3 separate regions of the Homo sapiens genome follow, and regions 1 and 3 are each linked to region 2. Evidence: fine-mapped expression QTL. A gene starts in region 2. Each other region holds a variant in brackets. All regions are shown on one strand. Distances are from middle to middle. Region 1 overlaps SMYD3 (SET and MYND domain containing 3). Region 2 holds the start of SMYD3 (SET and MYND domain containing 3). Region 3 holds the start of SMYD3-IT1 (SMYD3 intronic transcript 1).

Evidence for each region. PIP is the estimated chance that this variant, and not a neighbour inherited with it, causes the effect.
Region 1: its variant is the best candidate, but not a certain one, in a credible set for the expression of SMYD3 in whole blood (TOPMed, PIP 0.62).
Region 3: its variant is the best candidate, but not a certain one, in a credible set for the expression of SMYD3 in whole blood (TOPMed, PIP 0.50).

The regions. Positions count from the first base shown.
Region 1 is chr1:245,812,369-245,816,607 of GRCh38, forward strand. The region is part of intron 10 of SMYD3 (SET and MYND domain containing 3); the gene reads right to left. Among named protein-coding and RNA genes, the nearest start is that of SMYD3-AS1, 290 kb to the right of the region's middle. RefSeq lists an enhancer at 3,850-4,239. The variant C/A (reference allele first, on the strand shown) is at 1,973.
Region 2 is chr1:246,505,480-246,509,718 of GRCh38, forward strand. It overlaps SMYD3 (SET and MYND domain containing 3), which reads right to left and starts at 1,800. Exons shown (of 12, transcript NM_001167740.2): 1 at 1,575-1,800. The coding sequence starts at 1,738. RefSeq lists enhancers at 751-1,251, 1,252-1,752 and silencers at 1,438-1,487, 1,758-1,937, 2,427-2,659.
Region 3 is chr1:246,320,850-246,325,088 of GRCh38, forward strand. The region is part of intron 5 of SMYD3 (SET and MYND domain containing 3); the gene reads right to left. It overlaps SMYD3-IT1 (SMYD3 intronic transcript 1), which reads right to left and starts at 1,589. Exons shown (of 2, transcript NR_189283.1): 1 at 1,435-1,589; 2 at 1-1,019. RefSeq lists an enhancer at 3,426-3,946. The variant A/G (reference allele first, on the strand shown) is at 2,062.

The DNA of each region.
Region 1 (4,239 bases), 690 kb before region 2:
AGGGTTTGTAAACCTTCCCCTACTACCAGGCACCACCACTGCTATCTGATGGCCGCACAAAGGAATGAGTGAACACCGTCAGGAAGACATTGGTCCTGTGCTCTACGAGAGGGTGTGCCCAACCACCACTGTCCTCTCAGCATCCTCCATTGTGACCAACGTCACCAGGGCTGCCCGAGGAAACCCTAAGAGAGGGAGGGGTATTTTCCGTGAAAACACACCTGGATGCAGGTCTAGGAAACCAACCCCTGGTCAGAGTAGCCCAAGAGAGAACAGGCCCATGCCCAGTGCTTTGGTAAGAATGACAAATTCTTACTTCTAAACAACAGTTCCAAAAAAAAAAAAAAAGAGAAAGAGCGAGCGAGAGAGACAGAGAAACTCACTCAGTAGCAGGAACTGAGAAGAAAGGGGTCACTCACTCACTCAGAGTGGGCTGGGAGGGAAGGCTTCATCATTTATCAGGATATAGTCATGAATACCTCTTTTTCTTCTTTGGAAAAATACAGACTACTGTGGGTGAGTAAATCTCATCTAGTGGGCAAGCCGGAGTTTGATTTGAGCAAAGAATAGAGGGGTAGTTGGGGTGAGGAGGTGAGGAGGAGAGGAAGGCATGGAGCCATGGTCATGAGACAGCTTCTTTTTTTTTTTTTTTTTTTTTTTTTTTGAGACGGAGTCTCGCTCTGTTGCCCAGGCTGGAGTGCAGTGGCGCGATCTCAGCTCATTGTAACCTCCGCCTCCCAGGTTCAAGTGATTCTCCTGCCTCAGCCTCCCAAGTAGCTGGGACTACAGGCGCCCGCCACCACGCCCGGCTAATTTTTGTATTTTTAGGAGAGACGGCGTTTCACTATGTTGGCCAGCCTGGTCTCGAACTCCTGACTTTGGGATCCACCTGCCTGGGTCTCTCAAAGTGCTGGGATTACAGGCATGAGCCACCGCACCAGGCCTAGACAGCTTCTTTCATTTGAAAATGTTCTCTTAGATAAAATGTATAAGGGTCAACATGCAGCACACAAGCAAACCTCCTTCCCCCAGGTGCAAGCACAGCAGCTGGCCTGAAGATAAGAGTTAAATGAATCCAGCCCCCTGAAAGGAAGGTTGTCTATGCTACAGAATCAAATCAGGAAGAAAGGAAGCTATTCTCTCACCTAAGGGCATTGAGAAAGGTACATGAATAGTAATTATCTAAAAAGAGATAATCAACAAGGAGTCAGAAGGGCAAAACCCTGTCTAACTAATCTACTTCACCTTTACAGCAAGGCTGAAGACTAGGTGGGCAACAGCGCTGCATGTCAAAGGGTTTACTGTGATTTCACAAAGCTCCATAGAAAGCCTCCAAATGAAGACTGGCAGGCTGGGAAAGTCTCTGAAACCATGAAGAAAAGGGACTAGTGGAGGAGCTGCCCTCAAGAGAAAGGCAAGATGTTGAGTTTAGATGGCCTCAGAATATTAAGCACCTAACCTGCTCTGTCATTTAGGTTAATTCATGGAGCCCTATATATATATATATATATATATATATATATATATATATATATACAGATGAATCACTGGCATGAGATCAGCTAAAATATTCATTGTAGTTGCTTTTAGGTGATTGTAGATTTCTTCATTGTTTCACCTTTTCCGTATATTTTTAAATGACAGCAAAATTTTATAATAAAGTTTTTATAATAAATTTATTTTTATAATAAAGAAAAATAAACAGAAGGCAAATTGATATCCTCACATAATGTGGGAGCTACAAAAGGGATCCTAAGTCAAAGTTAGTGCCCTTCCTGTCTAGCCTGGGAGGAAAACGTGACTATTAAATTAATTACTGAATATGATGTGAACTGCAGTTCTGAGGACAAGGACCTGCATTTCTGGTCTACTCCTGTTTTGAAGGTAAACAATTTAATAATTTCAGTGTATAGCTACCTCCAATTATCCAAACCACTGTCTTCATAGGAATATAAGAAAATTAAGGTAGATA[C/A]CTGAAGCAGCACCAGGAATCAGGACAGATAGAGCTCAGTTTTTTAAAAGAAGATTCTTTCCTGGTCTTCTTCAACTGGGGGCAAAAAAAAAATAAAAACGAAAAAATAAACAATAAAAATAAATAAATAAAATAAAAAGAATGCTACTGTTACACCACATACTTGTTTTAAAGTCTTGCCCTTCTAGTACTGACTACACGCGGCCCCAGGGACCTGTGAAATGGATGCTGCTGCAAGATTTTATTTAAACAACATCTTGATCTTCTGTGCCATGTGACTGGCATTGCGGAGAAGCTGCTCTTTCTAAAGGCTTCAAGGTCACTTAAGCTTGTGCCGGCTCTGCTAAGAGCTCCGATGAGGAATAAACTTTAAGATCTTCTACTAGACAGAATTTTGGAATTCCCAGCAGACCTGTTTCCCTTGGCTTCCAGATCCTCTCAAATGACCTTATCCCTTATCCCACCATGCACACACACACACGCACGCACACACGCACACACATGCACGCACACACACGCAAGCACACACACACGCACGCACACACGCATGCACACACACACACTCTATCTTCACTGAAGGCTCCCAAGACATCTTCCTCACAAAACACACAAAACAAAGACAGCTGTCCATTGGTGCTCAAAATAAATGAAGGGTAAACTAAGCCCACAGACACCATGAGGTGAGGTGATATCAGAAAGCCAGAGCAGGACAATGGTCTTGATCCATCCGCTAAATCTTTAGGTACAACCTCCAAGGAAAATGACTTTCAGTCAAGCCAGGCAACTATTGCTACCAACAATAAAACAGAAGATGCTTTTACACTCATGGCCCCAGCATTGTTTCTCACAACTAAAAGAGGCCAAACATCCCAACCAGAAAAAAACACAAACACACACAGGAAGCAACTGTTAACAAATGGAACGTGATAGTGGCAGAGCCCAGAAGAGCTGTTGGTTAACTCAACACGAAGGAGTCCTTGCCTCTCATTCAGGGGTGCACACAGACATGACCCTACCATGCTTTTCCTTCCATCCCAATCTCCATGGTCATCTAGTCCAAGCTGTACGCTCTAGTTTTTCTCAAAGTGGAGCTTATGGGTAACCTCCATCAGAATAGCTGGGGAGCTAATGACACATGGATCCCAGATCAACCAAGGGGATTTTAGAGACATGGGGCCTAGCCCCCAAGTGACTCTGATGCATATTAAGACTTGAGCATCACAGGTCAAGAAGTACACAGATCCCAGTTATCAACATAGCCAGATGGCTGGTGGTAGAAGCAACCCTGTCCCTGTAGCACCTCTCTGTGTCCTGCTCAAAAGCATTAAAACATCATTCTTAGATAAGAACAGAGACAAAGGATATGTCTTTAACACTTTACAGTCTATAAAGTTTTTCCACAGCCACTGTCTCACTGAATCAACCCCTAAGAGACAGAAATGAAAATCGCTGTTTTTACAAACTGAGAAATTACGGGCCTTTGAAGTGTTTCACAGCCTTCACAGCCTGCTGGTAAGAAGCAGAGATCAGGCCTTGGACCTGGGTCTTGTGATTCCAAAGCCCATGATCCTTCGGATTCATCAAAGCTCCACTCCAAGTGCCTACTGGGACTGCCTTGCAGCACTCACCTTCTGTAGGTGAGTAGGTAAGTTGCGGCATGCCATTCTTTCAAAAGAACAGTGCACCTCTGTGACCGAATATGGGCCACAGTATCTCAAGGATATTTTGGTCAAAGCCCTGGGGTGTGGGGCAGAAGATAATGTATTCAATGAAGCTTCTAGAGAAAAGCATAATAAATAAAGAAGCTCCTACCTGTCGCTAGCCTTCCTAAATATCCCAAGAAATCAAGAATTTTCTCCCAATGGATTACAGCTGAGCATCTACTCAGAAGAGAAAATCAAGTCCATTTCAGTTTAGACGGCAGCAGCAAACTCCCCACAGAGAGTACTCCCGGGGTGGCTAGGGGGTGGACAGTGCCATTACTGTATCAATCAGGCCAAGGAGTGGGGCTTGCACTACTGTTTGCTAGAATGGAGCTTGGCTCTAAAACAGGATTCTCAGACACATTTCAGAATAGGACGACTGGAACAATGCAATACTCATCTAAGCAACTGCAAAAGCCAGCTACAACCCAACTCAAGGTGCCATCTATTATGAGAGGTCCCCTTCATCTATGTAAAAAAAAAAAAAAAAAAAAAAGAGGAGCCAAGATGGCCGAATAGGAACAGCTCCAGTCTACAGCTCCCAGCGTGAGTGACATAGAAGAC
Region 2 (4,239 bases):
CCTACTGCAGAATCCAATATTATCAGGCGACAGAAGTGATATACACCCCAGATCCCAGCCCCAGCTACTTTTGCAGTGCAATCCTAACTTGGTTCAGCCGATGCCCAGTCAAGTCTTGGCAGACTTTAAAGCAACACTGAGAACTCCCCCAAAACTCTTTCATTAAATTCCTTTTTTGCTTAAATCCCCAGTTACTGCAAACAGGAAAAATGAATGAGACTAATGAAATAGTATGGTAAATCAACAAGCATCCCACCCACAAAGGGTTTGTGTAGCTTATTTTGGAAATGCACAATTCCGTGTGTCACAAGACTCAACTTCAGCTCTAATGATTCAATTGCCAATTTGTCACCATTTATTCATTCCAAAACTTTTCTGTTCCAAGAACTATCTTGAAAGGAACGAATTGTTTTCAACCACACAGTTTACAAAAACTTCAAGATGCTGCTCTCTCCCGAACAGATGTTTTCGCTGTTATCATTACTTCAGAAAGCAACAGACAAAATTATTATTTGGTAGCTCTAAAATGCAAAGTCATATTCCTGAATTATGAATCAAATGAGAACAAAGTAAGAACAATGGTCAAATTACAGATACGAGTTTTGCACTTACCGTCCCACCTCCACCCACCTAAATCTCAGACTGGCAGGTCTGAAAAGCGGCCATGCACAAAATCATCGCACTCATCTCAAAATAGAACTCTTCTTCCTCGCACACAGAAGCTCAATAATATTTGTTGACTGAATGCAGTTCCTATTATTCATGTATGTTACACATTTCCATAAATTGCTTTCACATAGCACTTTACACCGGCACAGCGCGTCCAGGCTTCCAAAACACCTTCACGTGAATCCCTGCATCTAGAATGGTGGTTAAGAGTTAGACATGCCTGCACAGCCATTAAATGGCACAGCACACGGGGGACCCGTGTCTGATGCTCCCACAGCACATTAATTGCCCCTCTATTTCAGCCCTTCTGGTACACTGTAATTCTCTCTCTCACTTGATCAGCTCTTTGAGGAGGTCCCGTTCCTCTTCGTATCCCCAGGCCACACACAACCCAGACCACAGAGGTGCACCGTAGACATCAAGATTCTTCCACCTGCTGCAAGCCTGATGCTTTACCGGCGGGGCCTCTGCAGGGGAGCCTGATTTATACTCATCCCAGCTCCCACCCAGCCCCACGCCCGCCACGTGTGATTTCCACAGCCGCACCAAGGAAGACTGTCCAGCACACAGACTTTTCGTCTCCCAGCAAAATTATCCCCGGCACAACGCTTCCCCCTCAAGTCTGCCCAATGGCTTTCCCATTTCCACCGCAGCCCAGGTTGGGGGGCAGTGGCTGAGCCTGGGCCCCCTCCCAGCCCCGCTGCGGCAACCTAGGGGGGTGTCCGGGCGGGGCCTGTCAGCAGCGACCCGCCCCCGGGCACACGCGCGTCAGGGGCAGCACCGCCAAGCTGCCTGTGCAGCCCCATCCAGCAGGAGTCCCGCGGCTGCCGGCCGCCCGACGCCCCCCCCTCCCCAGCACCCCACACAGCTCGCGACTCAGGTAGGCGAGGGCGCTCCTTACGCACCCGAGAAGGCAGCGGTCGCAGACGACGCCACGACTCCCCTTGCACACCGTGTACGCCAAGGGATCCGAGCGGAAGAGTAGCTCTCCGGGGCGCAGCGGGGTCACGGCGCGCAGCCCGTTTCCCCTCTTGGCGGTTGCGAACTTTTCCACCTTCAGCGGCTCCATCCTCCCGCAGCTCCGGCACCTCAGACGGCTACCCGCGTCCAGCAGCGGGCGTCTCACGGGCTGCCGGGACCCGCGCGCCTGCGCCCTGCGCGCACACGTACGCCCGAGGGGCGGGGCGGGCGCGGTGGGGCAAGAGCATGCGCAGATGGAGTCTGGAGGGACGGCTGGAGTGGAGTGTGTGGGACCTGAAGGTGGTCGTAAGGCTCCGCGTGCGGCTCGTGCCCATGGCGACTGCGCAGAAGACAGGCGGGGTTTTTTTTCTCCCTCTAACATTGTATTACGATCATTTTAACGCATACGGAACAGTTGAAAACAGTGCAGTGAACACCTATATACCTCCGCCTAAATCAGACAACCTAGCACTTTGCCATTTCTGCTCGTCACTCTCTCCCCACCTGTAGCTATGTATACACGTATTGTCGTTAAACTATTTCAAAGTTGCAGGCATCATGACATCACAACTAGTACTTTGCACTGTAACTTTTTTTTGTTTTAGGACGGAGTCTTGCTCTGTCGCCCAGGCTGGAGTGCAGTGGCGAGATCTCGGCTCACTGCAACCTCTGACCTCCGGGTTCAAGCGATTCTCCTGCCTCAGCCTCCATAGTAGCTGGGACTACAGGCATGTGCAATCCTCCCGCCTGGGCCTCCTGACTAGATGGGACTATAGGCTCACGCCACCATGCCTGGCTAATGCTTTTTACTTTCCTCCAGAGACAGTCTACCTATGTCGCCCAGGCTAGTCGCAAACTCCTGGCCTCAAGTGAACCTGAACCTCCTGCCTCGACCTCTCGAATTGCTGGAATTACAGGTGTGAGCCACCACACCCAGCTTAATTTTCTTTTTTGTTTTTGGGGTTTGTTTTGTTTTGTTTTGTTTTTTGAGACGGAGTCTCATTCTCGCCCAGGCTGGAATGCAGTGGTACGATATTGGCTCACTGCAACCTCTGCCTCCCGGGTTCAAGCGATTCTCCTGCCTCAGCCTCTTGAGTAGCTGGGACTACAGGCGCCTGCCACCACGCCCGGCTAATTTTTGTATTTTTAGTAGAGACGAGGTTTCACCGTGTTAGCCAGGATGGTCTCGATCTAACCTTGTGATCCGCCCGCCTCGGCCTCTCAAAGTGCTGGGATTACAGGCGTGAGCCACCGCGCCCAGCCCACCCGGCCTAAATTTCTTAGTTTGGACAAACGTGCCATGGTAATGCAAAATGTCATTATTAAGGGCAGCTGGATGGAAGGTGTAGGAGTACACTATAGTGCCTTTCAATTTTTCTGTGTATCTAAAGTCATTTCAAAAGTAAACATTTATTTTAAAACATGAAGGTGGTTATGCTTCCATGAGTGTAAAGTACAAAAGGCAGGCTCGTGGTGCTGTCAGAAGTCAGAACACTGGTTTCAGGGCTGGGGGTGTTGGGAGGGGCTGGGCATGGTTGGCTTTGTGATCTGGGGGCTGGTGTGTTCCATCTGTGAATATCTTTTAAGCTGTGCACTTACCAGGGATGTAAGTCATATCTTAATAAATTTTCATAAGTTTGACAAAAAATAAAATGAGGATGGGAAGCTTGTTTGGGTTGTGGGGCCTCGGGTGCTTATCCAGCCATGAGCTGTGTCCCAGATGCTTCTAGAAGCCTGGAGGGAGCTGAGAACATTCCAAGTCGAGGTGGCAGAGCCAAGGCCCTGAGGTGGGAGCGCAATGCTGCACATCCCCAGCTGTGAATGGGGTGTCCTGGTCAGAAGCAGTGCTGTGTGCACTGCAGGGCCGGCAAATCCACGTCCACATTGTGGCTTGGTGCAGTGAAAGCCAATCTCAGCCCCCTCCACAGTGTGATTAGCCTGCCAGCAGGTGGCCAGCTGGTCCTCCTGGGAAATGGTGCCAACCCAGAGACTGGGTGCAAGTGTCTCATCCACGGAGGGGCGCTCAGCAGTGGTGTCAGCCTGGTGAGCCTCGGTAAGGGCACGTGCAGGATGCTGAGCCTCTTCCGTTCCCATGCCCGTCTCAAGGCCACTTGCTCCGTGGGCCCATCCAGCAAGCATGGTGGCCAGGAAAGAAGCCGGCTCCATTCACAGGGCGTGCTGTTTTGCTCACCTCAGGACCAAGAGCATCCTCCATAGTGATTCTCTTTGGTGGGAGCACTAGAAACATGAACCACAGATACCTTCAGCGTCTGAGCCGCTGAGGCGAGGGCTGCAGGACACCCTGCTGTCGGGAAACCCTGCACTGGCGGCTGGAAGGCATGTGGTGGTGGCGCCTGCTGTGGCTGCAGCAGTTGCTGCGAGGCTTCGGGATCTCGCCGGCCCCTGCGAGGTGAATTGTGACAGTGCAGAGCTCCGTGGTACCAGGGCCCCCTGCATGGCCATGCTGACTGCAGCTGGGAGCCCACCACACCTCTGGTTCCCCGCTCTTCCCAGGGCTGGGGTCTAGGCCAGGCCCCTCTTGGCCTGCGAATTGTGCCCTGGGAGGGGGACACTGTTCCACAGGTTGGGACCAAGGACCCAGGGCATGCT
Region 3 (4,239 bases), 180 kb before region 2:
GAGAAATACAATACATTCCATGGCGTTTCAATTAATTAGAACATGACAACTGAAGCACGCTTAATTCCATCCTTTTAAGATGCATGTGTGAGAAAGATTTCCATCATCAAGGGAAGCCTACTTTTACATTTCCCACGTGAAATTCCAAGAAACTACTTTGATACCATGGAGTTTCTAAGAATGTTGGCAACAGTACATGATTTCTGTCCACAATGGCTATGACTGAAACTAAGCCTCAAGAAAAGACACCATTGCCTGTTTGCAAAATTTCTTCTCAACAAAACAGGTAATTCTCAGGATCTCAAGAGACACCAGCACTGGGCACAACTGTGAGCAACCATCTGAGACTCTAGTTTACAAACAGTGGCAGACTGCGCTCTTGGCTAGATGACAGCACAGGGAGATTTAAAACACCAAAGTTCTATAATCCAATAAAAATAAAGCTGAGAGGTGGGAGCAACAGTAGTAGAAATTAATAATATGTGTCAGACACTACTAAGTACGTTATAGTTGATCCTCCTTGAAATCTATGAAGTAGATATTAGTATTTCCATTTACAGATAAGAAAATTGAGATGGAGAGAATTTTATTTACTTGACTGAGGAAAATGACCTAACCATCATATTATTCAGCCTCCCATTTAAATTTGGCCTCTCTCTAACTGTAATTTTTGTTTGTTTTGAGTTGGGGTCTCACTCCGTCCCCCAAGCAGCACTCATGGTTCTCTGCAGTCTCAAACTCCGGGGCTCAAGCAATCCTCCCATCTCAGCACACCGAGTAGCTAATTGTAATTTTCTGAGTTTCGAAGGATATATTTATGCTTAGGAGTATATACATTTTCTATATTTGTAGCAAATGTTTCGGACCCAATCAGTACACCGAATCACAGCATTTGTCATGCCATGATAAATTTTTTTGAGACAGGGTCTCACTTTGTAGTCCAGGCTGGAGTGCAGTGGTGAGATCACAGCTCACTGCAGCCTCGACTTCCTAGGCTCAAGCAATCCTCCCACCTCAGCCTCCCAAGTAGCTGGAACTACAGGTGTGTACCACCCTGCTCTCAGCTAATTTTTTTTTTAAGTTTTTTTGTAAAGATGGCATCTCGCTATGTTGCCCAGGCTGATCTCAAACTCCTGGGCTCAAGTGATCCTCCTGCCTCGGCATACCAAAGTGCTAGGACTATAGGAGTGAGCCATTGTGCCTGACCAATAAATCCATTTCAAAATCTAACAGGTGCTGGGTGGGGTGGCTCACACCAGTAATCCCAGCACTTTGAGAGGCCAAGGTGGGTGGATCACTTGAGGTCAAGAGTTTGAGACCAGCCTGGCCAACATGACAAAAGCCCATCTCTACTAAAAATACAAAAATTAGCCCGGTGTGGTGGCGCATGCCTGTAATCCCAGCTACTCAGGAGGCTGAGGCACAAGACTCAACTTGAAAGCCAGGAGGCAGAGGTGCAGTGAGCCGAGATCACGCTACTGCACTCCAGCCTGGGCAACAGGGTGAGACCCTATTCCCAAAGAGGGGGAAAAAAATCTCAAAGGAAATTTTGTTTGAAAATGGAAGTGGAGATTTAAAAAAAAAAAAAAGTGTGTGGTAGAGAGGAGAAACAGCTTGTAGAGATGGAGACATACATCTTCTCTTCTCTAAACAATGTGAAAAAGAGCCAGCAGAGATGAAATTGGCCTTTATTTTTTATATGCATATAAATAATCACATCTCCTGTGTTCATCTGTATATCCCCGGTGCACTTCCTATCCTTTCAACACCTTCATTGCTGTCTGTGGAAATTAACACCTTTCATTGCTCACACTTTACACTTTTATCTCCGTTCAGCCACACACTCCCCAGGGAACATACAATCTAAGTTTTTTAAAAAAAACAAAACTATCCAAATAAAGCTGCAAGTAATTTGCTCTAGCCTCTCCATCCAACAGATTATCACTCAGCATCCCCTCCTCTAGAGAAATTCTGGGAGTATCCCTACCCTCACTTTCTATTACATTTAGTGCAAAACAAACATTTTAAACATCAAGCTCTTATTCTAACTCTACTGTAATT[A/G]CTAAATATAACTGAAATCTGTATTCCACAGGTAACAACTTCCTTTGAAAACCTTCTCCGGAGGAGGTTGATATATTTCCCTCAGGAGGTTGGAGGAATCAACACCCTCACTCCCCAACAGCATTTCTAGACCACTGTATATCACTGTTTCCCAACACCAGCCTCGCTTTTGAAATTTACGTCAGTTTCCACTTCTGATATGAGGTCCTCCTTGACACCCACCCCTAGAAAAATTCCTCCTTCCTATGGCTCATGTTACTCAGTTTTTACAGCCAGGCAACAAATTCATAAGTGGACAGGATATATCTATATAGAAAACTCCACAATCAAACTCCAATTGCTATTAGGGTGTGTGTGTATTAACACTGGTGCTAAGAGTCAGAGTCAGACTAACACTGGTGCTAAGAAGTGGGGTGAAAAGGAGGAATATCTGGGAATATGACCGGGAAAATTACAAGTAACAGAAGAAATTTTCCAGGTAAAATTAAGGCTTACGCAGCAGATGCACGTTCAGCATTGAGAACCCGGTCCGACAGGAAAGACACACCATTTTTCCGCCAGAAACTCCAGTGTTCAAAATACAAACTGCCAACTTTTCAGGCAATAATCATGAGCTTCCATTAGAAAAAGCCATCAGCTCACCAGACGACGAAATATGCTCTCGGGATTAAGAACTTTCTCATCCTCCCTGAGCCCTTTCCTTTCAGGGGAAGTGCAAGTTTGATAAAGATATGCATATTCTTCAAGTAAGACTTTTGACCTGCTGAAGTTTTCTGCCTTGATAGATAATTTTGAGATTTAGAATTAGCCACATACTTCTACAACCCTGTGTCAAGAGTATTTTGTACACACTAGACCTGCAAATAAATAAATAAAAGTCTGCTGTACTTGCTAAGCAAATTCAGATTCAACTAACAAACACCTCTCAGCAGGGCAAGAGACTTGGTAAGAAAAGACTAATTCTAATGAAGGTTTAAAACTCCGAAGAGAAAGAACATCTGTGTGAACTGTAAGTATTAAAAATGACAGATATAAAATGAGTCTGAAAATTAGGGAAACCAGCTGATAGAAACATGAAGATTCATTCTACTAGTCCCTCTATTTTTGTGTGTGTTTGAAAATGTCCATAATTTAAAAGTCAAAAAAATTAAGACATAAGCAATTTTAGAAAAGCTCTCAGAATTCCATATGCCTTTCAATGAAAATTAGATGGTCTAAAACTGGCCGGGTGCGGTAGCTCACGTCTGTAATCCCAGCACGTTGGGAGGCCAAGGCGGGCGGATCATCCGAGGTCAGGAGATTGAGACCAGCCTGGCCAACGTGGTGCAACGTTGTCTCTACTAAAAATACAAAAATTGGCCAGGTGTGGTGGCAGGCGCCTGTAATCCCAGCTCCTTGGGAGGCTGAGGCAGCAGAATCGCTTGAACCCGGGAGGCGGAGGTTGCAGTGAGCCGATGTTGCGCCACTGCACCCTAGCCTGGGCGACAAGAGCGAAAACTCCATCTCAAAAAAAAAAAAAAAAAAAAAAGATGGGCTAAAACATAAGCTTAGTATGTCTATTATCTGCACAGAACCTGAATGAATGTAAATGAGAGGAACCAAAAGAAAAACAAAAAACAAGATCTTGTTTATTGAGGCCAGGTATAGCCAGCCTTGTTGACAGCGTAAATTCAGAAGTCAGCAGCTTCCTCTGTATGTACAAACTGTCAGTCAGGGATAGTTGCATGTTGACCCGCTTTCCACAGCCTAATGAACTGACTTTTGAATTTTCGCTGTGAAGAAGGCTGGCTTTACCTGGCCTCAATAAACAAAATCCTGTTTTATGTTATTTTTTTATGGTGCCCGTTTCTTCTCTTTGATTAATTAATTTTATACCAGAGTAAAATGAGGAGAGGAGCAGTAGACTGGGATAAAAATCTCTGCCCAGGGATCTTCACCCAGTTCCCGTGTGCTTGATGTGACTTGCACCATCACACACCGTCAACATTCTGGGCTCAGTGACTCATCCCTGAAAGCTGCAGGATCTATTTAGGTTAATTTAGGATCTTTCATGAACAAGGAAGGAGAAGGAGTCAGGGGGCGGGAAGGAGGGAGAAGGAGTCGGGGGAGCGGGAAGGAGGGAGAAGGAGTCGGGGGGCAGGAAGGAGGGAGAAGGAGTCGCGGGGGCGGGAAGGAGGG